Linked DNA regions of Homo sapiens. The protein of the gene in region 1 interacts with the protein of each later gene in a pairwise test. Each region holds a gene or a part of one and is shown in the gene's direction. Other genes may lie near its edges. The genes, in order: ZBTB47, DSCAM, NCKIPSD and CCDC136.

The links.
Region 2: the proteins of ZBTB47 (region 1) and DSCAM interact in a two-hybrid assay, tested with the Homo sapiens proteins (one large-scale study listed by BioGRID and IntAct).
Region 3: the proteins of ZBTB47 (region 1) and NCKIPSD interact in binary tests that used the Homo sapiens proteins (3 or more experiments, as listed by UniProt).
Region 4: the proteins of ZBTB47 (region 1) and CCDC136 interact in a two-hybrid assay, tested with the Homo sapiens proteins (one large-scale study listed by BioGRID).

The regions. Positions count from the first base shown.
Region 1 is NC_000003.12:42,659,068-42,664,438, forward strand, and holds part of ZBTB47 (zinc finger and BTB domain-containing protein 47), read left to right. Parts: coding exon 1-761; intron 762-2,417; coding exon 2,418-2,565; intron 2,566-3,944; coding exon 3,945-4,060; intron 4,061-4,729; coding exon 4,730-4,874; intron 4,875-5,169; coding exon 5,170-5,371. UniProt on the Homo sapiens protein: May be involved in transcriptional regulation.
Region 2 is NC_000021.9:40,843,198-40,849,331, reverse strand, and holds the start of DSCAM (cell adhesion molecule DSCAM isoform CHD2-42 precursor), read left to right. Parts: upstream 1-2,173; 5' UTR 2,174-2,670; coding exon 2,671-2,713; intron 2,714-6,134. UniProt on the Homo sapiens protein: Cell adhesion molecule that plays a role in neuronal self-avoidance. Promotes repulsion between specific neuronal processes of either the same cell or the same subtype of cells.
Region 3 is NC_000003.12:48,678,447-48,683,817, reverse strand, and holds part of NCKIPSD (NCK-interacting protein with SH3 domain), read left to right. Parts: intron 1-805; coding exon 806-915; intron 916-1,265; coding exon 1,266-1,470; intron 1,471-1,661; coding exon 1,662-1,773; intron 1,774-2,037; coding exon 2,038-2,531; intron 2,532-3,588; coding exon 3,589-3,759; intron 3,760-3,930; coding exon 3,931-4,017; intron 4,018-4,104; coding exon 4,105-4,243; intron 4,244-4,360; coding exon 4,361-4,441; intron 4,442-4,634; coding exon 4,635-4,763; intron 4,764-4,848; coding exon 4,849-4,941; intron 4,942-5,081; coding exon 5,082-5,254; intron 5,255-5,371. UniProt on the Homo sapiens protein: Has an important role in stress fiber formation induced by active diaphanous protein homolog 1 (DRF1). Induces microspike formation, in vivo. In vitro, stimulates N-WASP-induced ARP2/3 complex activation in the absence of CDC42.
Region 4 is NC_000007.14:128,805,243-128,810,613, forward strand, and holds part of CCDC136 (coiled-coil domain-containing protein 136), read left to right. Parts: intron 1-116; coding exon 117-282; intron 283-518; coding exon 519-659; intron 660-994; coding exon 995-1,153; intron 1,154-1,445; coding exon 1,446-1,616; intron 1,617-2,117; coding exon 2,118-2,303; intron 2,304-3,293; exon of another isoform or gene 3,294-3,522; intron 3,523-4,207; coding exon 4,208-4,402; intron 4,403-4,896; coding exon 4,897-5,124; intron 5,125-5,371. UniProt on the Homo sapiens protein: May play a role in acrosome formation in spermatogenesis and in fertilization.

The DNA.
Region 1 (5,371 bases):
TGAACCTCAACAACCAGACACTGCACGTGTCCACGGGGCCAGAGGGGAAGCCAGGTGCCGGGCCAAGCCCAGCCACCGTGGTTCTGGGCCGGGAGGACGGGCTGCAGAGACACTCGGACGAGGAGGAGGAGGACGACGAGGAGGAGGAGGAGGAAGAAGAGGAAGAGGAAGGTGGTGGCAGTGGACGGGAGGAGGAGGAGGAGGAAGAGGGTGGCAGTCAGGGAGAAGAGGAAGAAGAGGAGGAGGACGGGCACAGTGAGCAGGAAGAGGAAGAGGAGGAGGAAGAGGAGGAAGGGCCTAGTGAGCAGGATCAAGAGAGCTCTGAGGAGGAGGAGGGGGAGGAGGGGGAGGCTGGGGGCAAGCAGGGGCCACGGGGAAGCCGAAGCAGCCGGGCAGACCCCCCTCCCCACAGTCACATGGCCACACGGTCCCGGGAGAACGCCCGGCGCCGGGGTACCCCTGAACCTGAAGAAGCTGGGCGGCGGGGTGGGAAGAGGCCAAAGCCACCCCCTGGAGTGGCCTCTGCATCGGCCCGAGGGCCGCCAGCCACTGATGGGCTGGGGGCCAAGGTGAAGCTGGAGGAGAAGCAGCACCATCCATGCCAGAAGTGCCCACGAGTTTTCAACAACCGCTGGTACCTGGAGAAACACATGAATGTGACCCACAGCCGCATGCAGATCTGCGACCAGTGCGGCAAGCGCTTCCTGCTGGAGAGCGAGCTGCTGCTGCACAGGCAGACAGACTGCGAGCGCAACATCCAGGTGGGCCTCACGTGGCTGGGGGCAGGGCAGAGGCTGTCCAGGTGGGGCTAGGCCATAACTGGGCTCTGGGCACCTAGTGTCTTGCTGACTGCATTACCTAGGTGGTCTGCGGAGACCAGACTTAGCCCCCAGACAGGCTGGCCCAGGCCCAGTTCTCAGGGTGGTTAGAGCTCAGGGGTAACATCAAGCCGAGCTTCCTGGGAGAGGTGGATAGAGTTGGGCGCATGAAGAGATGTGCAGAGGATTGGAACAAACAGTACCCTTGGCCAGAGGGACAAAGGGGACACATGGACTTGGGAGGATGAGAGTGGAGAGTTGTCTGAGCAGACAAGGCCAGAAGACAGGCCACTCTGGGTGGGATGAGTCAGACGGGGTTTTAACAAACACGGGGGCTGTAGGAAGGCCAGCAGGGCCACTGTGTATAGTTTCACAGGTTGTGCACTGCAGCAAGTGAGCACACGATGGGAGGAGGGGTTTGCCCAGAGGGATGCCATCCTCCACTTCCCACAAAAGTGCTGTATGGAGGAGGGGGCAGCCCAGCAGGAGGCAGCCCCCACTTTCAGCTCTTTGGGGATGCCAGCTCCCATGGGCCTGGGAAAAAGGGATTGGGTGAGAAATTTGGGAAGAGCAGAGGCTGCTGGGGTAAGCAGGGGAGCTGAGCTGGCTGCTGGGCCTTGAGCCAGCCTGAGTCTGTTTGTGCCAGCCTCACTTCTCAGGGTGGGGTGGCACAGGGCCAGCCAGGCTCCCACGGGTGGTTTTCACCTCTTCTGGCCCAGGAGAAGGGGGAAAGGTAGCAGGTAGGTGGGTGCTAATTGCCTGCGCTAATTGCTAATTGCAGTGCCCTGTGGAGAAAGTGTTACCCGGGGGTCACCTGCTATCCTGCCCCACCCTTGTGTACCTGTGCCCACTTGCCCGCCTGCTGGGCTGCCCTTTGATGCTCTAACTGCTGCGCACCTGAGTCTCCCTCCTGAAGGAAAAAGAAGCTTCTGCCCCATCCAACCTGAGTACCCTGACCAATTTCTGCCCAAGCCTTGGCCTAGCCTCCATCCCTGTGGGGTGTCCTGCATAGATGGGCAGGACAAGGGTCCAGGAGAACAAATGGGGGGATATGGTCCCCAAGATCCCCCACCACTCTCTGTGCCTGATGGGACCTTGAGCCTCCTGCTGTCCTCCTCAGCCAACGCCTCTGGGACTCATCCTCTTGGCGATATTCATGGTGTCATGGCACAGGTCCCAGCAGGAGGAGGCAGCAGTGATAATGGCTCACTCTGTGGGACCTGTTATCTCTGCGTGTAGCCTCCATACCAGAGGGCGCCCTTCAGCTAGTTGTCTGCCTTACCTCTATAGACAGACAAAGGGTGATGCCTTTGGAAGCCCTTGTTGAAATGAGCCCAGAGTGGGGAATTTCCTGGAAGAGGTGACCCCTGACCCTAGTTAACTCAAGGATGAAGGAGGACACCAGGCTGTGTGTTTGGGGGTGTTTAAGGAGTTTTCATCCCCAACCTTAGAAACATCAGAGCTGGCTGGCTGTTGGCATCAAGGGCTCTCCAGCATATTTCAAGTGGGAAAACTGAGGCCAGACGGGGGCAGTAGCTTGCCCAAGTCCAAGACCCTGGGGACTCAGGACCCAGGGCCTCAAGTCCTCTTATTCTGCAGTGTGTGACATGTGGCAAAGCTTTCAAGAAGCTTTGGTCCCTCCATGAGCATAACAAGATTGTGCACGGCTACGCAGAGAAGAAGTTCTCATGCGAGATCTGTGAGAAGAAGTTCTACACCATGGCCCACGTGCGTAAGCACATGGTTGGTAAGTCTGGGCCACTGGGGGATGGAGCCAGAGGATAGAGATGGACCAGCTTCTGGCTGGTGGATGGGAAAGACTTCACATCCAAGGGCAATGTGAAGGGGTGAGGAGGCCCCTCTCAGCTAGGAGGCCTGGGGAGGTTGGTTCCAGTGGCAGGTGTAGCCTGGACAGGCTCTGGGGCCAGGGCTGGCATGTACAGTTGGGCAGGCTGCACATTGCACAAGGGTGCCTGGACAAGATGGCAGGTGGGAACCGGAATCAAGCTGGCACACTGCTAACCAGGCTGTGCATCCTGGCACGGGCTCGTGTCCACCCAGGGAAAAGAATACCTTTTCCTAATTATACAAAGTGCTGTATGGGCTGGTACAGGCCCTGTGTCAGTTTGATGACAGCTGTGCCTCTGATTCTTTCTTACCTTCTGGTCCTCATAGGGCTTCAGGCCTCTCTGAATGCAGCCTCCCCTCAGGGTTCATGCCTGGACACAGTAAGGAGGTCCCCCAATTGTGTGTTTTGGCCACGCCACTGCCCCAGGCAAGGCTGCCCACCTGCTGTATGTGGGCCTGGCAGAGCCTCATGTCCCTACAGCCCTGCCTTCCTTGCCCGCTCCAAGTCTGGGCCTTGAGGGGGAGGGGTAGCCAAGGCAGACAGTGAGCCCCTGGCCAGGTCCTAATCCCTTTCTCCATGAGACAGTGCTGGGGGCCCTCCAGCATGAACTGACTGGAAGCTGGGACCCTGCGGCCTAGGTCTCAGCCAGGAGCATGCTGGGTAAACCAGGACTGGTGTCTGTGAGCTTGAAGGTGAGCCTTCTGTCTCCAGTGGCCACCTACCAGATCCTTGAAGAGTTTGTTAGTCCTCACCCATCCGTGGGTGCTGGGAGGAGTGCAGCTAACTTCCTCCAGACTGCTGGCTAGGGCCTGAGACCAGGGCCTTTCTGCATATGTCCCCTCTAAAGCCCACCACCCCTGAAGCTCAGGACCACTATGAGTCCCTTTTTATAGGAGAGGAAGCGGAGGTCCAGAGAGACTGAGTGGGAAGCCAGTGGTCGGGCCGGGATTTGAGCTGAAGCCAGGTCCACCCAGGGTCCTTCCATCCTTCCCTGAAGCTTTGGGGGCAAGGCAGCCTTGGCCACTTCCCTTGACCAGAGGCTAAAGAACCACAGAGCCCCAGCATGTCTGAGGCAGACCTTCAGAGCAGATAGGAGACCCAGCCATGGAGGCAGGGGGCCTCTCCTGGGAATCAGCACAGGTCCTGGGACAGAGTATAAGGCCAGCCCCAGAGAAGGGTGGTGGCACAGGGCTGCCCCAGGAGGCAGGGTCTGGGCCCAACGTCGGGGTGCTTGGGCAGGCCCGTAAAACATGATGGCCCTGGTGCCCACCTCGTAGCCCACACCAAGGACATGCCCTTCACCTGCGAGACCTGCGGAAAGTCCTTCAAGCGCAGCATGTCCCTCAAGGTGCACTCACTGCAGCACTCAGGGGAGAAGCCGTTCAGATGTGAGGTGAGCTTCCATCTCCTGCCTGGCCTGCCCGAGGGGTCACCTGGGAGGGGCAGGAATCAGGGAGCGCAGCTGCTGAAAAACAAAGGGCTAGGGGGTGGAATGTAGTGTCCAGAAAGAGAGAGCCCTGCCCTCTGAGGTCTGCAGCCCCTGCCTCCCACTCCCACCCAGCCCCTACTCTTCTCTGGCCCACTCCCATCCTGCCCTTCCTTCCCCAACCCAGCCCCACACACTCAGGGTGGGAAGTGTGTGTGGGCTACAGCCCTAGGAGCAGGCTTTCTGGGGAGGCAGATTCAGGAGCATCCCAGGCCTGGAGCTCAGATGAGACAACAGAGCTGCAGGTGGGGAGGTGGGGGCAGGGGCTGGGCGTCTGATCAGGAGGAAGGATGAGGGACCTCGTGCCTTAAGCATGGGGCTCCCTCTACTCTCTGGCTTTTTCCCACTTCCGACCCCCATTCCCCACCTAAGCCTTGGGTGCTTGTGGCCTCTCCTCTTGTGCCCATGTACTGCCCACCCAGATGCACCTCGGCTTGCCCTCATGTCCCCATCTCCTTGCCCAGGAGCCCCTGAGTGTGTCCCTCCTTGGCCCTGTGGCCACAGGGGAGCTGTTCCCTCCACAAAGGCTGCTCTTCTGCTCTGTGCCTGGGCCTCACCCCCAAACCCCACCCCCAGAACTGCAATGAGCGCTTCCAGTACAAGTACCAGCTGCGGTCACACATGAGCATCCACATTGGCCACAAGCAGTTCATGTGCCAATGGTGCGGCAAGGACTTCAACATGAAGCAGTACTTCGATGAGCACATGAAGACCCACACAGGTGCGGCTGCCCCTGGGGACGGAGCTCGGTGCCGGGCCTGGGACCCCTTCTCAGCCCCGCTCAGGACACCTGGAATAATCTTGGCCACACCCCTTCTCAAGTCTGGGCCTCCGTTTACCCATGCTTCCTGCCTCCCAGGGTTGGGTGAGGCTGGCACAAAATGCCCCAGGGTCGGGGAGGATCTGAGAGCGCCGGGGCTGGGCCCCACTATGGCTCCATGGGAGACGGAGGCTGGCCCCAGACTGGGGTGTGGCGACCCCTCACTGACGCCCTGCTGCCCACCCCCAACCCCCAGGAGAGAAGCCGTACATCTGCGAGATCTGTGGCAAGAGCTTCACCAGCCGGCCCAACATGAAGCGGCACCGGCGCACGCACACGGGCGAGAAGCCGTACCCGTGCGACGTGTGTGGCCAGCGCTTCCGCTTCTCCAACATGCTCAAGGCCCACAAGGAGAAGTGCTTCCGCGTCAGCCACACCCTGGCCGGCGACGGCGTCCC
Region 2 (6,134 bases), on another chromosome or scaffold:
TCTTGGCTGTCCACTTCCCAACCCCATGTTCCCCCAGCTCTTGAGCAGCCTCTGCCCCTGCAATTGTTGCTGCTTCCCAACAGGGTGGCAACTGCATCATTTTGGAACAGCAAGCCTGTGTTCTGCCACCACCTGCCATCTCTGGTGAGTGTATGGGCATGTGTGCAGGACAAGCACTGTGCAGGAGTTCAGAGAAAGGCCTCGCAGTGACCATCCCCTCAGCAGGCTGGCAGTGCCAGGGCACATTCCACAAGTGGCCAGAGGCTTGTGCCCACCTCCAATCCAGATACCCAGAGCTTCCCAGCATGGAGGTTGCAATCCCTGAGGGATCTCCTGTCCACTGTACATTGGGACAGTGGGCTGTGGGAGAGAGACAGTGGCTTCCCCACCCCCTAACTGTGGCTGGCCACAGCATGTGGGTGCAGCCAAGGGCAGGGAAGCAACTGGCAAGTGGAAGCCTCTTGTACTGCACTGAGTCACCTGGAAGGTCTGTGGGGTCTGTACAGGGGTGCATTCCCACGCCCAAGGAAGAGCAGCATGTAGCAGAAAACACCATGACTGGTTGAGAGAGGCAGGAAGAAAGGAGGAAGTGTTCTGTTTTAGCACTTGTTATGGTGCTTCTTTTTCATTTTGAGAAAGGAGCTCTCCATTTTCATTTTATAGTGGACCCCACAAATCATGTTTCCAGCCCTGCTCCCAAACTCAGTAACAGTTAACCACAGCCATCGCTAACTACAGTGACCATGTGCTGTCAACGGATGGAAAGATCTTCACACCTCTGTGAGTTAAGAACTGTGATAATTTCCAGTCTGCATATGAGGAAATTGAGGCTCGAGTCACATGCAGAAGCCCCACATCGGGGTAGTGGAGGAGCTGCAATTCGACCCTGGGTTTCCCTGACCCCAGTGCCTGGGCACCCTTGCAGGTGGCTAGTGTGCAAGTAAGAATTAATGAATAGGTCAACCAGCCAGATGCAGGGACAGAATCAGGCCCATCCCCTGCCTTCCTGGGTTGCATTTGGGAAGGACCAGGGACTGAGCACCCAGCATTTGCAAAGCCAGAGGATGCTGGTTCTGGTGCGTGGTACTGGGGGCTGGGCCTGCGCAGCCTGAGTGGGCGGCAGCACGTGATCACCTGCAGCTGCAGAGCCGTGGTGAGCCAGGCAGCATCACCGGCTCAGCTGACCCTTCCTGGTACACAGGGCCTGGCCATCTTGTGCCCAACCCTGGTAAAGCACCATTTTGTTTCTGCCTCACCATTTGCTTCTCCTGTGTTTTGTGAGCTGTCTGAGATGTGCATCATTCTTCTGTATTTGGAGGGGGACATGGAGCCCAGTTAGGATACCTAGTGCCTAGGAAAAAGCCTACTCAATTTCCCTTGAAAATGTCTCCCTTGACCCCCACCGAATGCTTTTTTTCAGTCCTGATTGTCCTGACTGTGAGCATTCCATCCTGGCTTCTACACTGGGGTGCATTCCAGCCCTGTCGGTCATTATATTGCAAAGTGATGGATAGATGTACGCCCTTGTGAGAGCTTTAATTTAAATATTATCATGACTTCAAGAATCATACAGAACATTCAGGAAATGTTAACATATTGACTTTTCACAGAAACGTGAAAGGGGCTATATGTTTGGGATTACTCAAATTATCAGCAATTTCAATCAGCTTTTTTATGCGCCATTCAGAGAGCAAAATTAGAAGTGCTTGTGTTTGCATTCTACCATGTATTCAAGATAATTAAAAATTAGCCCGTGAAATCATAGAGATCTTTACAGTAGCAGCAAGGATTTGGAAGGAGCATTTCCCTCTAAGCAAATGAACTGGACTTTTCTGAGAGTAAATACGGAATCGGAATCCAGCTGCACATTTTATTAAAACTACGAGCATTTCATGTTCACCTCTCCGTGGCTGGCCACCTTCCGCAATAGTCACCCCGGCCATCCCTTATTAGCAACCGGCAGGAAAATAACTAAAAATAAGCAGCTGTTGAAATGATTATTTAAGCCTCTAAGAAATTCCTCCTGATGACTGTGCGTGACTGTGCGGTGGCTGCGCTCTCCCCGGTCCTGCCTCAGTTCGGCTGCACGTCTCTGCTGCTGCTTTAAGACTGCAGAGCGCCCCAGCGGCCAGAGGCAGGGGAGGGGTCCCTGCTCGCCTCCGCGCTCGGCTTCACTCGCCCGGCTCGCAGGCAGGGAAGGTTGGCAGAGGGATCCATGTGACTGAGGCCGGAGCACGGCAAAGATGAGCCTGCCCGCCCGCCTGCTGCCTGGATGCGGAGGGTGAGGGCTGGCGCACGGGAGGCCGCTGGCTGCGCATTCTGGGCGCCGAGTGCCCGGGATGAGCTCACGCCCGCGTCTGCGGCTCTCTCCACCTGCCGACCTGCCGGGGGCCCACTGAGCTGACGGCGCACCTGGGCTCCGGCCGCAGCGTGGGGCGCGGCGCCCGGGAGCAGGTGTGCAGGAGCGCAGCGCGCGGCGAGCGCAGCCCTCGCTCCGGAGCCCGGCCGCGCCGCGTGCCCGGGCGGCTAGGCAGCGGCGGCGGCGGCGGCGGGCGGCGGGCGGGCGGCGGCCCCCGGGCAGGTGCCGAGCGGCGAGCGGAGCCGGGCCGGGCGGAGCGCGGGGGGCGAGGCCGGCGCGTCGCTCGCGGGAGGCCGGGGAGCGGCAGGGGCATGTGGATACTGGCTCTCTCCTTGTTCCAGAGCTTCGCGAATGGTGAGCCTTTCGGTTTGTGATGAATTTCGTTTCCTTATCATTGACCGGGGGGGCGGGGGGGTGGGGGGTGGCATTGGATGCATGGGTAAAGTCTTCTTTCTTTTTCCGCTTCATCTGTGTTTAAAATTTCGTGCTTTTATTTATTTTTTAAATATCATATTTATTTTTTGGGGGAGAAGAGGTGGCAATGGAGAGGCCCGGGAGAAATTGCTCTGTAATCATTGGAAGGCGCTTACCTAGCCAAGTGACAGCTCAGAGCCTAACTCCAGTACTAGAGAGCTGCCTCATTCAGAATAAACCAGGTTTGGTGACAGAAGGAGAGACAGGAAGATTGCCACTTTGAATATTACAACCTGGAAAGGGATGTGACATTCCAAGTGCACGCAAGTGGAGGGGTCAATGAGGAACATCTCCCTTCAGATTCAATGCTTTTTGAGATTTTTCAAACACGTAATTTCATGCTAGTACAATGTATCTCCAGCACCAAGGAGGGCTTTAAGAATGTTCTGTCCTTCTATGCACCCCGTGCTGCTTCATGCTCCTCACAGTCGTTTATGTAAAAATATGCACTGATAAGCATTACATCATCTGAAATGTTGACAAATTAAAAAAAAAAAAACACCTGTATAGTTGTAAAAATGAAATCAGTGAATATTGTAAATAGCATACATTTCCTCATGCCCAGCCAATATTATATTTTGAAATGATTTCTTCCTGGGTATTTAGAAAGCTATTGCTCTTGACTGAGTCAGACCCAATTAGTAAGTGTGACTGCACCTTAGGCTGCCTGTCACCGCATAAATATGAACTTACATGTATGAATGGCTTCCTCTCTTGTGGGAACCAGAGGAAATTGTCATCATTTGACATCGCCTGGGAGTAGCTACGGCTTAAATTCCCATTTCAAATTTTGGAACACACATCTGCATAAAATGTATAACCTACTGACAGTTGAAATTAAACCATTAAGCAGAATCCCCTAGCCAGAAGAGAGGAGAGAGAGAGAGAGAAAGAGAGGAGGGAGAGAGAGCGAGACAGACACAGAGACAGAGAGAGAGAGAGAGAGAGAGAGAGAGAGGAGAAGAAGAGAAGGTAAAAGAAGAGAAGAGAGGAAATCTGGCCCTTGTGAGAAAATACGAGAAGCAAAGGGGAGGCTCTAAGATTTTCCTGGAAGACACACAGGGAAGCTCTGTGTGTTGGCTGCAAGGCAGTGCATTTTCTTTGCCTACCTAGACAGTGCCTAAAGAATCAGCATACCAACAGGCCAGAAGAAATGCATGAGCATTGTCAATTTTTTAAAAAAACGGTGACTAAGAAAAGGTAGAGTTGAAAGAAGGTACTATCAAAATGAACATGAAAATGATACTTTGCTCTCCAGTATAACCTAAAGCAAAGTGTTTGAAACTTTCATTTTGAGATTTCCTAGCAGGAAAGAATTGCAACAAGTTCTGACAAGACACCCATCTTTCCCAGAGGGCACCATACCTGTCCTGTGTCCTCCTGGGAATTTCCCTTCAGGGACAGATGTGCTTAGGGAACATGCGGAGATGTGTCGGGGAAGTCAGCCCTTTCTGCTCTTCTGCTAATGCGACCTCCTAAGAAATGTAGAGATGCCTACACATGTGTTCCAAAGACACAGAGCCTTGACACCCTGTTTCGCCTGTCAGGGAGTACCTTTCTGAACTCCTTGGAAAGGCCTGGGTTATAAGAAGAAACAAAATTTGCACCCCATTGGGAAGTGTGTGTTTCAGGATGATGAAAGAGGCTGTGCTGGTTGTCAGTCAGCCAGTATTTATTTACAGTTTTAGCATTTTGTATGACAAAATGGTATGGAAGAATTTATGATACTGATACAGACTATTAGCCTCTGATACAGAGATGCTATATGTGTGTGTGACTTTTTTTCTGAATCAGCATTTTATAACTAAAATAAACAATCATAGAAATAATTATATATGGTAATACAATTATATGAAACCTCAAATATTCTGCAATATGAAAAATATATGCAAAAATTATGTAGGTACTCATATAGTGAGTTCTGCAAGTATTATTTTCAAGACTTTTAAAATCAACTGATAATCACCATTATTGTAATAAATATAGGTAGATTCCACAATATTAGACATAAACAGCAAACACAAATGAATATTTTACATTGCTGTATTACGTATTCTGATCCAATCTAGCAGAAGGCTATGGAACTGTCTTGTATAAAAATGCCCCTCTCTTTATATGATCAAGGATGAAAACATTAAAAGCCTGCTGTAAAGCTTTAGGATCTTTGAAGGGGGGAGGGGAAATCAGCTTTAAACAGTTTTCTAAGGTATGGTGTTCATTACATACTGGGGAAAGGATCATAAAATATATAGACATGTTGAAATAAAATAAGAATCCAGTTTGGAACTATGCCTGTTTGTAAGACCATATTTCAAAAATATAAGAGTAAATGGTTTCTACCTATCTGAATTAAACTTTAAAAAATTGAGAATATTTTTGTCAACAACTGTCATATTTTGTTATACCTCAACTTTGAAAAATTTCTGAATGTGTGTGATAAAAGATTGATGAATTCTAATACCTAAACTGATTATTGCTAGGCCTCAAGCATCAAAATGCCTGACATGATAACTTTTTTTTTTCATTTGTAAAAGATTATGTAGTTTAATATTTGGGGCTATTAAAATAAGCCCACAATACATCTGCATTTTAACAGTAGACAACAATATTTTTCTTATTGATGTATCAGAAGTACAGTTATTTCTTAATAAAAGTATGGTTGCTAGACAGGCTGCAGGCAGTATTTTTGAAAAAAAAAAAAAAAAAAAGAAGAAGTCAGTGACCAGGCCCTTCATAGGTTAAACCCTTAAATGAATGACCTCACCTGATGAGGTGCAGTATCGTGTTTTAAAGCAGTCAATTTGTTCTGCAATGTTCTGGAAATACACGCGAGCTTCTGTTACAGTGCAAGGAGCCAAGGTACACGTATGTGCAGACACTCACCCACACACGTCCCTCGGTGTCTTCTCAGCAAAGCTTCCTACTGCATTGTGTTTCATTACCATTTCTCCTGGTTTTAACCCCAGAGCACATTCTAGTTTAAAATTATTGCTAAAAGAAGAGCCAGGCCTTCAGACAAACAGAATGATGAAGAATTAGATTTATTATATGTAATATAGTTTTGCTAGTATCCTGGCATCTCTGTTTTTACACACACACACACACACACACACACACACACACACACACATGCATGCATTCCTGACATCATCTTTTCCTGAGCTGTGGGATTTTCAGTTCTACTGCATCCGCTTTCATGGGGCCTGAGGGTCATGGAGATTAGAGACGGTGGGGTGCTGGGAGTAAGAAGGTGCTCATTAAAGAGAAGATGAGTATGCAGCACCTTTGAGCTTCATCCATT
Region 3 (5,371 bases), 6.0 Mb from region 1:
TAGCCTGATGGACTACGTGTGCCAGGGCCAGGGGAGGGCTGGGGGTAGCTGGTTTGATAGCTGCTACCCTACACTCCCCATGTCAGATAGGCAGAGTAGACTGGATCCCTGGAATGTTGGGGATGGCAGTACAGAGCCTGGAACAGGGGCTAGGCCCCTCTCTCATGTTTATCCTTTGCCACAAACACAGAACTGCTTCCCAGGGTGGGTTTGGAAGCTTACTGAGACATCTTGTGGGGATGAGGGCCAGCAGCAGGGTTGGGGAGGGCAAGTCCCTTTGACCCATTCTCAGCTCCCAGGGCTTACAGAGGGCCCTTACAAGGACAGGGCTGTTCTGGGGTATGACCTTGGTTTTGTGAAAGATCAGCAAGATGCAGAGTGATGTATTAAGGATTCCAGATACTGGAGACTTCCTGTTTGGCATCTCAACCTGGGCTCTGAGCCAAGACCAGGGATAGACGAGGTATGCGCTCCTGGCTGCAAGCTGGGAGCCCCTGGGCTATGTTTTTGCTTTAGACCTCTGATTTTCAGAAACATCTTAGCCAAGAGCCTTGCTGTGGGGTAAAATCCTGATCAGGACCTAATATGTAATGTGGCAGCATGGGGGTCACCCTGTGCCTCAGCTCCCTGAGTGATACAGTTTGAGAACCCCATTCCATATTCTGGTTCAACTTTTTGTGCTATGTCTAGCATTCCAGGCTTTCGCTATATTGGTTCTCTGCCCTGGGTTCTATCTCGGGCTGGGCCTGGGCTGAGCACCTCCGTTTGGCCTTCAGGTCTAACTGCTGTCCCCTGCCCCCCCCAGGGCCTGGAGCAGGATGTCCTCCAGGCCATTGACCGGGCCATCGAGGCTGTACACAACACAGCCATGCGGGATGGTGGCAAGTACAGCCTGGAACAGCGTGGAGTCCTCCAGTGAGTGTTGAGGGGAGTGAAGTGGGACCTCCCGGTGAGCATGGTGGGGTGGGGTTCTTCAATGAGTGTCATGGGGCAGGTGGGCCTGGGAAATGCGAGGGTTGGCAAGGGTGGTGGGGGAATGGCACCTCCCAGTGAGCAAGGTGGGGTCGGGTCCTTCAGTGAGCACCAGGGGTGTGCAGAGCGCAGGACTGAGGATAGTATGGGGTACTGTAGGCTGGGGTGGAGCATGGAGGAGATGGGGATGTCTGAGGGGCCTGGGCTATGGGGTCCCAGCATCCCACAGGGGCATATGAGGACTTTGAGCTGTGAGATGCAACCCCCCAATAGTCTTCCTGTCCTTCCATCAGGAAGCTGATCCACCACCGGAAAGAGACCCTGTCACGCAGAGGCCCTTCAGCCTCCAGTGTTGCAGTTATGACCTCATCAACCAGTGACCACCACTTGGATGCTGCTGCAGCCAGGCAGCCCAATGGGGTGTGTCGAGCTGGGTTCGAGCGGCAGCACAGCCTACCCAGTTCTGAGCATCTTGGGGCAGATGGAGGCCTCTACCAGGTGTGTGGGGAGGACATCGTGGAGAAGGGAGGTGGGTGGAACTTGAGGCTTCATCCAGAGGCTCAAGGGGTCCACTCAGGAGTGATGCGGCCCAGAGCCATAGTCCTGCCCACAGCCAGGGCTCAGGGCCCGAGCCTCGCTGACGCTCTAGATGTCAGTCTGTCCTCCAAGATCCTACTTCCATCTTCCAGATCCCACTTCCATCTTCCCAGATCCCACCACAGCCTCGCCGAGCAGCACCCACCACACCGCCCCCACCAGTGAAGCGCCGAGACCGCGAGGCCCTGATGGCCTCTGGGAGTGGTAAGAAGGCAGGGTTAGGGGAATTCAGGTGGAGGCACCCTATGCTTGGAATGGTTGTGCTGCCTGTGTCAGGGAAATGGAGGCTCTAAGCTGGGGAAGAGGACAGGACTCCCATTTTGGGGCAATTAGGGGCTCTGGGCTTTGTGAGGAGGCAGTGCCTAGCAGAGAAACTAGGCCCTGTGTTAGGGGACAGGGGATCTGGGCTGTGAAGGGTATGGTTTTCCAGGGGGCTGCCCTGGCCCAGCTTCTACTCACTGCTCGCAGGTGGCCACAACACCATGCCCTCCGGGGGTAACTCTGTGTCCAGCGGCTCCTCAGTCAGCAGCACCTCCCTGGACACGCTCTATACCAGCTCCAGCCCATCTGAACCAGGCTCCAGCTGCTCACCCACACCCCCACCTGTGCCCCGCCGAGGCACCCACACCACCGTGTCCCAAGTCCAGCCCCCTCCCTCCAAGGCATCAGCACCTGAACCCCCTGCAGAAGAAGAAGTGGCAACTGGTACAACCTCAGCCTCTGATGACCTGGAAGCCCTGGGTACACTGAGCCTGGGGACCACAGAGGAGAAGGCAGCAGCTGAGGCGGCTGTGCCCAGGACCATTGGGGCCGAGCTGATGGAGCTGGTGCGGAGAAACACTGGCCTGAGCCACGAATTATGCCGGGTGGCCATCGGCATCATAGTGGGTCACATCCAGGCCTCGGTGCCGGCCAGCTCACCAGTCATGGAGCAGGTCCTCCTCTCACTCGTAGAGGGCAAGGTGAGGGTGGGCGGCACAGCAGGGCCACCCTGCTACCCACCCTGTTCCCACCGTCACACACTTGTCCAGCCTGTACATTACAGGTATTTCTCAAGCTCTGGCTCTGAGCTCTTACTGTGCTGGGCACTGGGGACGTTGAGCTGATTTCTGAAGCAGAAAGGAAGGACAAGCATTCCAGGCAGATGCGCAGCCTGGACAAGGGCCACAAGGCAGGACTGAGCCTGGCTTGTGGGAGGAAGTGGAACAAGGCCTGCAGGACTGGAACACAGGGAGTGAGGGAGTGGGTGCTGTAGGAGGAGGTGAGACCTGGGGCAGGTGACAGATAAGACGACATGCGGGTGGCCAAGAGTTCTGTCTGGCTGCAGGGAAGGAATGGACACGGCGTGGGTGAGGGTAGTGCCTTGCTGACCTTGGCAGTAAGAGACATGGGTGCTGGGAGAGCTGGGATGGAGTCCTAGGTGCTGACATGGATGAGAGGGAGTGAGGTGTGTGGGCATCATGGGATGGGTGGGATCCTTGGCACTCATGAGCAGGATGGGGGCAGTGAGCCCAGCATACATGATGGGGGTCAGACAGACCAAAGGTCCCTCTTTAGTGCTCCATGGTTCCTGTTACACTTCTGGTTTGGGTGTTGGGGAGTGGGCCAATGGGCTTGGCTGTGCTGGGCACAACAGCTAGTGCCTGGTCAGCAGGGTTCAAGGAAAATGTGGCAAGTTGGTAGATGACAGGCCTGTGCCATTTTGTGTGGAATGGGAGAGTGAGGTCTCAGAGTCACATTCTGGCAGTGACAGAGTTCATGGCCCTCCTAGTTGGGGGTGTTTATCCAGGTCTGGGATGAGAGGCGAGCTGTTGAAAACCCCCTACAGATGAGTCTCCCGTTGACTCCTGTCCTGGGAGGTCATCAAGACTGGAGTTGAGCCTCCTGTCCAGTGTGGGCCAGGAGGGACTTGAGTTCATGGAGTAAAAGTCCACAGATGGACTCTCCAGGCCTTGGAGGCTCCCTGGAGATGGTGAGGGCAGGGAGTGTGCTGAGTCATGCCTTGCCCTCTCCCTCTAGGACCTCAGCATGGCCCTGCCCTCAGGGCAGGTCTGCCACGACCAGCAGAGGCTGGAGGTGATCTTTGCAGACCTGGCTCGCCGGAAGGACGACGCCCAGCAGCGCAGTTGGGCACTATATGAGGATGAGGGTGTCATCCGCTGCTACCTAGAGGAGCTGCTGCATATTCTGGTAAGGGTGGGGTCCCACACACATACCCCACATGGGGAACAGTGGCCCCCACCCTGTAGCATCCCTCACAGTGCTAGGAGTCTCCCCTACACATATGTGCTCAGCCCTCTCTTGTGCGGCTGCACAGCTCCGCTCATGGTGGCTGATGCTCTCACTTCCTCATTTCTGTAGACTGATGCAGACCCTGAAGTTTGCAAGAAAATGTGCAAGAGAAACGAGTTCGAGTCTGTCCTGGCCTTGGTGGCCTATTACCAAATGGTATGTGCAGGATGGAGGGGAGGGGTAATGGAGAGACCTAGATAGTGGGGGAGTTCCAGGCACTGAGCACGCAGGGTTCCCTGCCAGGAACACCGAGCATCACTGCGGCTGCTGCTCCTCAAGTGCTTTGGCGCCATGTGCAGCCTGGATGCAGCCATCATCTCCACGCTTGTGTCATCCGTGCTGCCTGTAGAGCTGGCGAGGGACATGCAGACAGACACGCAGGGTGAGGCTGGAGGGCGGGGTAGGAGGGAACTTCCTGCTATCTGGAGGGTGTTCCTGCCATCTGCTGGGGTTTCCTGCCATCTTTGGGGACTCTGACTGCCTGCCTTGTCCCCCCCAGACCACCAGAAACTCTGTTACTCTGCCCTCATCCTGGCCATGGTCTTCTCCATGGGAGAGGCAGTGCCCTATGCACACTATGGTAAGAATGCAGTAACCGACCAGCTGATCACAGGTCCTAAGCCAGGGCCCATTGCCCGAGGGCCTGGGACCTGCTGACTACACAGCCTAGCAGGGAGAGGCTATCCCCAAGGCTCACAGAAAGCCAGGAAGGGTGGGTGGTGCGGGGGTCGGAGGGGAATGGGGCTGCAGACTTCTGTGCGCCCCTCTCCCAGAGCACCTGGGCACGCCTTTCGCCCAGTTCCTACTGAACATCGTCGAGGATGGGCTGCCCTTGGACACCACAGAGCAGCTGCCGGACCTCTGCGTGAACCTGCTTCTGGCTCTCAACCTGCACCTGCCAGGTGGGGTGGGGCCTGGCTGGGCGGTGGCTGAGCACATGGTGGCTCTCAGGCTCAGCACCCTGTCTATACCCATGTCCTTCCTTAGCTGCTGACCAGAATGTCATCATGGCTGCCCTGAGCAAACACGCCAATGTCAAGATCTTCTCCGAGAAGCTGTTGTTGCTCCTGAACAGAGGGGGTGAGGGCCCGGGAATCTGCGCGGGTACCACTTCCATGCCCTGTGACTCCATGACCCCTGCAATGACTCCCGTAACCCCCTGGGGTGACTCTGGGATCCCCACAAGGTCCACCCTGACCGCTATGACCCCTGCCTCCTAGATGACCCTGTGCGCATCTTCAAACATGAGCCACAGCCACCACACTCTGTCCTCAAGTTCCTGCAGGACGTGTTTGGCAGCCCGGCCACAGCTGCCATCTTCTACCACACAGACATGATGGCTCTCATTGACATCACTGTGCGGCACATCGCAGACCTGTCACCAGGAGACAAGGTGCCTGGAGGTGGCTGCAGCAGCGGGGGTCACTGTGTGGAAACTGAAACAAAATGGTGGGGGGCATGACATTGAGTGGAGATGAGGGGGCAAGGCCACTGCTGGAGCCAGGTAAGT
Region 4 (5,371 bases), on another chromosome or scaffold:
ATAGAAGGCCCCTTACTATCTTTGGCCTAAAATGAAGGTATCAGGACAAAGCCTGCATGGCTGGTGATGCCAGGCAGAACTCCCTTCAAGCATAGCTCTGCGGTTCTGAATTGCAGGACACAGAGAGCAACAGAGAGATGGCTGCAGTCCCAAACACTGAGTATGACGTCAGCAGAGTCTCAGACTTCAGAAATGGATTTCTTAGAGCCTGATCCTGAAATGCAGTTGTTACGGCAGCAGCTACGGGATGCTGAAGAGCAGATGCATGGCATGAAGAACAAGGTAGGGCACAGAGGGTGGGGAAGGCAGGCACATTTCTTGTCTTTCTTTCACCTTCTCCCAGCCTGTGGTAGAAACATCTCCATAGGCATCCACTGTGGAGGGAGATAGTACTCTGGGGTCTCACTTGCCTGATGTAAATCTTCCAGTCAAAGAGCGCCATGCTTTCCCCAAGCTTGTTCTTGGAGCATATGTGGTATCTGTAGTAAACAAGCCTCCCTGTTCCATTTCCCACATAGTGTCAGGAATTGTGTTGTGAGTTGGAAGAGCTACAGCATCATCGCCAGGTCAGTGAGGAGGAGCAGAGGCGGCTGCAGAGGGAGCTCAAGTGTGCTCAGAATGAGGTGCTTCGGTTTCAGACCTCCCACAGTGTCACCCAGGTAAACACTGCCCGGGGAGGCATCTGGGGTGGGGGCAGAAGGGCCTCATGGAGGGGCTGCTTCAACCGGGGTGGGCACAGTGAGTATGGCTGTGCTCTGCTGACTCTTGCCCTGCAACTGGGCACAGTCTGCTGGAAACCAACTGTAGAAGTCATATAGCACTGCATTCTAGAAATGGTGGTCATTACTGAGTGTCCATCTCACAGAAGAAACCAAACCCTAGACCTGTGGGAGCTCCTCAAGATGTCTGCATCTGAAAAGGAACCCAACTGATCCGTAGAAAGACCTGCTGTTTCTTGAGAGTAACTGTTCTACTCACATCCTCCCTACCACAGAATGAGGAGCTGAAGTCCAGACTCTGTACCCTGCAGAAAAAATATGATACTAGCCAGGATGAGCAGAACGAGCTCTTGAAGATGCAGCTGCAACTTCAGACTGAGCTCCGGCAGCTCAAAGTCATGAAATCCACACTTGTAGAAAACCAGAGTGAGAAGGTAACAGCAACCAGAGGTGAGGGGACAACTTAGGTGCTAAGGGCATCCTTCTGAGGTTTTGGGGAAGGTGGATAAGAGTAGTGAGTTAAAAATAATTCCAGCAACCACATAGGCAGCACCACAGGTAAAGAACTCCAGCCCTGCTCGAGTACTACATTAGATATGAGGACATTAGGAAGTGAAGGGCAGGAAGAAGCAAATCTTAGACTGTTGGTGTCTTCAAGTGACTCACACAGAAGAGTGAGTGGGTTAAGGAGCCCAAAGGCACTGCCCAAAGCCCCCTCTACCATAGGAGTTACTGTGCCGGCTGCAGAAGCTGCACCTCCAGCACCAGAACGTCACATGTGAGAAGGAAAAGCTGCTGGAACGGCAGCAGCAGCTGCAGGAGGAGCTGCAGTGCCATGAGGCAGAGCTGCAGCACCTCAGGGATACGGTGGCCTCCTTCAAAGAGAGCAATGAGAAGGTAAAAGAAGCTCCTGGTGAGGGAGGATGTAGCCAGGCATCATCTTGTGTGAGGGTGAGAGCACAGAGGACGAGAGGGAATGGTAGGAGTGTGGAGGAGCTGGCAGTGAGGGGGCCAAAGAGGTGCTTAGGAGAAAGGTGACCTCGGGGAGTCACAAGGCTCTCAGCTTCCTTTGATTTTAAATCAGAAAAGCAGCATATAAAAAGGAAGTCCCTTTGCCTCCCCACCTCCCAAAAAAGGAAGCCCCAGAAGGTCTGTGTTTCTTTTTAAATTATTTTTATATTTATTTATTTATTTATTTAACTGGAAAGGCTGCACTGGGAAGGTCTGTGTTTCAAGCCTGTCAGGGACGGGTCCATCTTGGGTATCTATCCCTGGCTGGGATGAAATTGGGGCTGAGAAGGACAAGGGAAGATGGGTCCCCTTAGTCCCCGCCTGGGAGGAGAGAGTCCAGCAGCAGGAGTGCCTGGGATGATGGCCAGGCCTGCCTCCCCTGCCCAGGACACAGAGACGCACGCTCAGCTTCAGGAGATGAAGCAGCTGTACCAGGCCAGCAAGGACGAGCTGGAGCGGCAGAAGCACATGTATGACCAGCTGGAGCAGGACCTCCTGCTCTGCCAGCTGGAGCTGAAAGAGCTCAAGGCCTCCCACCCCATTCCGGAGGACAAAGGAAAGTGTGCTAATAAGGTAATTGTCGTTCAGAGAGGTGACAGCTCCTGGGCACTTGCTCCAGAGAGAAGAGGTACAGAGGCAAAAAGTGAAGGCACCCAACCCAAGGGCTTGATGGCCTTCCTAGGCAGGAAGCAGAGGCAGGGCCACATGCTGCTAACTTCAAAATTGTTTGCCCTGACCTTGACTTTGAGCCAGAGCCACAGCTTAGTAGGATCAATACCTTTGGATCCCAGTCTGAACCCCTGAAAGTTTTACACATGATTCCATGTATGTAGACATTTATACAATGGTATTAGAACTGTAGTGATATCTAGTCATTCTTGGAGGGGAACATATACATGGGCCCATTACACAAATATTATTGTTGGAACTAGAGAAAGGGGCCAGTTTTCTGGGTCAGATTGCAAATGGTCTTATAAAGGGGTACGGTCTTGTGCCCAGAGTGCTGATTGGGCAAGAGAAGGACCTAGGCTCTTCTAGGATTTATTCTGTGACTTTGAAGTAGTTAAATTCTTTTTTTATGAAATGGAGTCTCACTCTGTCGCCCAGGCTGGAGTGTGCAGTGACACGATCTCAGCTCACTGCAGCCTCCGCCTCCTGGGTTCAAGCAATTCTCCTATCTCAGCCTCCCAAGTAGCTGGGACTACAGGCACATGCCATTGTGCCTGGCTAATTTTTGTATTTTTAGTTGAGACCGGGTTTCGCCATGTTGGTCAGGCTGGTCTCGAACTCCTGACCTCAGGTGATCCACCTGCCTCGGCCTCCCAAGGTGCTGGGATTACAGGCATGAGCCGCCATGCCCTGCCAGTAATTAAATTGTGGAAGGTTGAATTGTGCCCTCTTTAAATGGAAGAGAATACTACTCTTAACTCACTTCCTTTTAGCAGTAAATCCTGGTAGTGATAAATAAGGCCTTATTCATTTTTTTTCTTTTCCATAGTGTATAAAATGCAAGCCGTTATCATTTATCCTGTTGAGCACTTTCAGCTCCTGATTACTGATGGGAAATGGAAAGGTGTTGAAGCATGTTGGAGAAGAGGCCCAAGAGTCTCTAACGATGGTGGAGTTGGTCACATTCTGCCAGAAAACTCAGTAGTTCCTGTCCCTGGGGAAAGGCCTTCAGGAGACGGAGGACTGGGAAGGTTATTTGGGCCACCTCAGCAGTCTCTTTGCCTTTCTATATCCAGGCTCACGTTTCCTCCTTTTTCCACTGCTACTCAATTTAGGAGCCCAGGTGATCTGTGACTTGCTCGTCACCTCTTCCCCTAATGGGAAAAATGATGGGAAAGGAGAAGCATGCTGGCAGACAGCACCTGCTTTTTCTCTAGCCGTAAAACAGCATTGAGATCTGTCTGATATTAGAAGATCTGGGTTTTTGGAAATGGGATGATTTAGTCTTCTCAACCCAAATTTACCAATAGCGCATACTTTCTAAAGATTTAAAGAGAGAATTAGGAAAGCAAAAATGGGAAAAATTAGGGTGAAATTAAGTCCTTATTTGTAAGGAGTGTAGTTGCATTAAAAAACAACTGGGGTTAATGAGAATAACAGGAGCTAAGAGTTCCCAACAGGGTGGGAATATGGTGTATAAAGGAAAGGGCCGGAGAAGAGGAAGGGGGAAATGAGAAAGGGGCATCGATAGCATTCCCCATCAAACTGCCCCCAGAAAGGAATGGTGGAAGTTTAGAGCAAGGCCAGCCACCAGTCTAGAGCAACCTGCTCTGAAGGAGCAGCCTGCAGGGGATCCCCAATCGGTATCTAAACAGCCAGAATGCATTGTGGCTTGGGGTGACCAGTCCAAGGTGACTGCACAGGGAGAGGATCACAAGAGGCAGGAGAGCGCAGAAGTGCTCTGTTAGCCACCCAAGAAGCTTACCTTACAGAGTAACCACCCCCTCCACACCCGCCCCCACCCACAGTGTGACACACTGCTGTCCAGACTGACAGAATTGCAGGAAAAGTACAAGGCCAGCCAGAAGGAGATGGGGCAGCTGCAGATGGAGCAGTGTGAGCTCCTGGAGGATCAGAGGAGGATGCAGGAGGAGCAGGGCCAGCTGCAGGAAGAGCTGCACAGGCTCACACTGCCACTGCCAAAGAGTGGCCTCTTACTCAAGGTAACTCTGCCACAGGCAGCTGCTAACTGCGGGGAAGCTGCTCTGAGAAGCTTCCCTGTGTGACTAGGGAAAAATAAAAGGGTGGGGATTGAACTTTTTCTCTTACCAACCACTCCTTACTTTCTCACCACTCTCCCCAAACCAAAAAGCTCCATAGAGCCAATTAGAGTTTTTCTTATAAGGGCTTTAAATCTTAAAATACCTTTTATACTCAGGAATCTGTGCAGCAGTTTATATTTAGGTATTTAGTCCATCTGGAGAAAATGCACCTGAAGCCACTTTGTAAACTACAAAATATATCCCAACACAAGAGACCACTGCCACTTTTAGCAGGTCTCCATAGAAGGGCTCCCCCGTCCCCAGATGGGCTCTGTGAAGTCAACCCTGAGATTCTTCAGGGAATTGTTCACAACGGGGATGAGGCACCAAGGAGGCATCAGACTTCCTGTGTGACCACCACCATCCCTTGCCTCCTTCCTTCTACTCCGCCTCAGAGTCAGGAGCTACTCACCAAGTTAGAAGACCTGTGTGAGCTGCAGCTGCTCTACCAAGGCATGCAGGAGGAACAGAAGAAGCTGATACAGAACCAAGACTGTGTATTAAAAGAACAATTAGAGATCCACGAAGAGCTGCGACGTTTCAAAGAGTCTCATTTCCAGGAAGTGTTGGAGAATCCCGATGATTCCAAATTGGCTAAGTCCTCCAAATGTAATCGAAACAAGGTAACCATAGCAAGAGGTAGGGAGACAGTTCTCCTGAGCACAACAGCATGGCAGAGAGAGTGGGCACCGCCGAAGGGTCAGAGTTGGGAAGGCGTGTTTGGCCAGGGGTAAGGATAAGGCAAAAGCCCTGCCTTTCACCAGCTGTGACCACTCACAGGCTCCATTAAGAGGTGGCTTTTAGATACGGCCTGAGGACCTCACCTAGATGCCATTATCCTTTATCACACTGATATTCACAGTGCCCAGT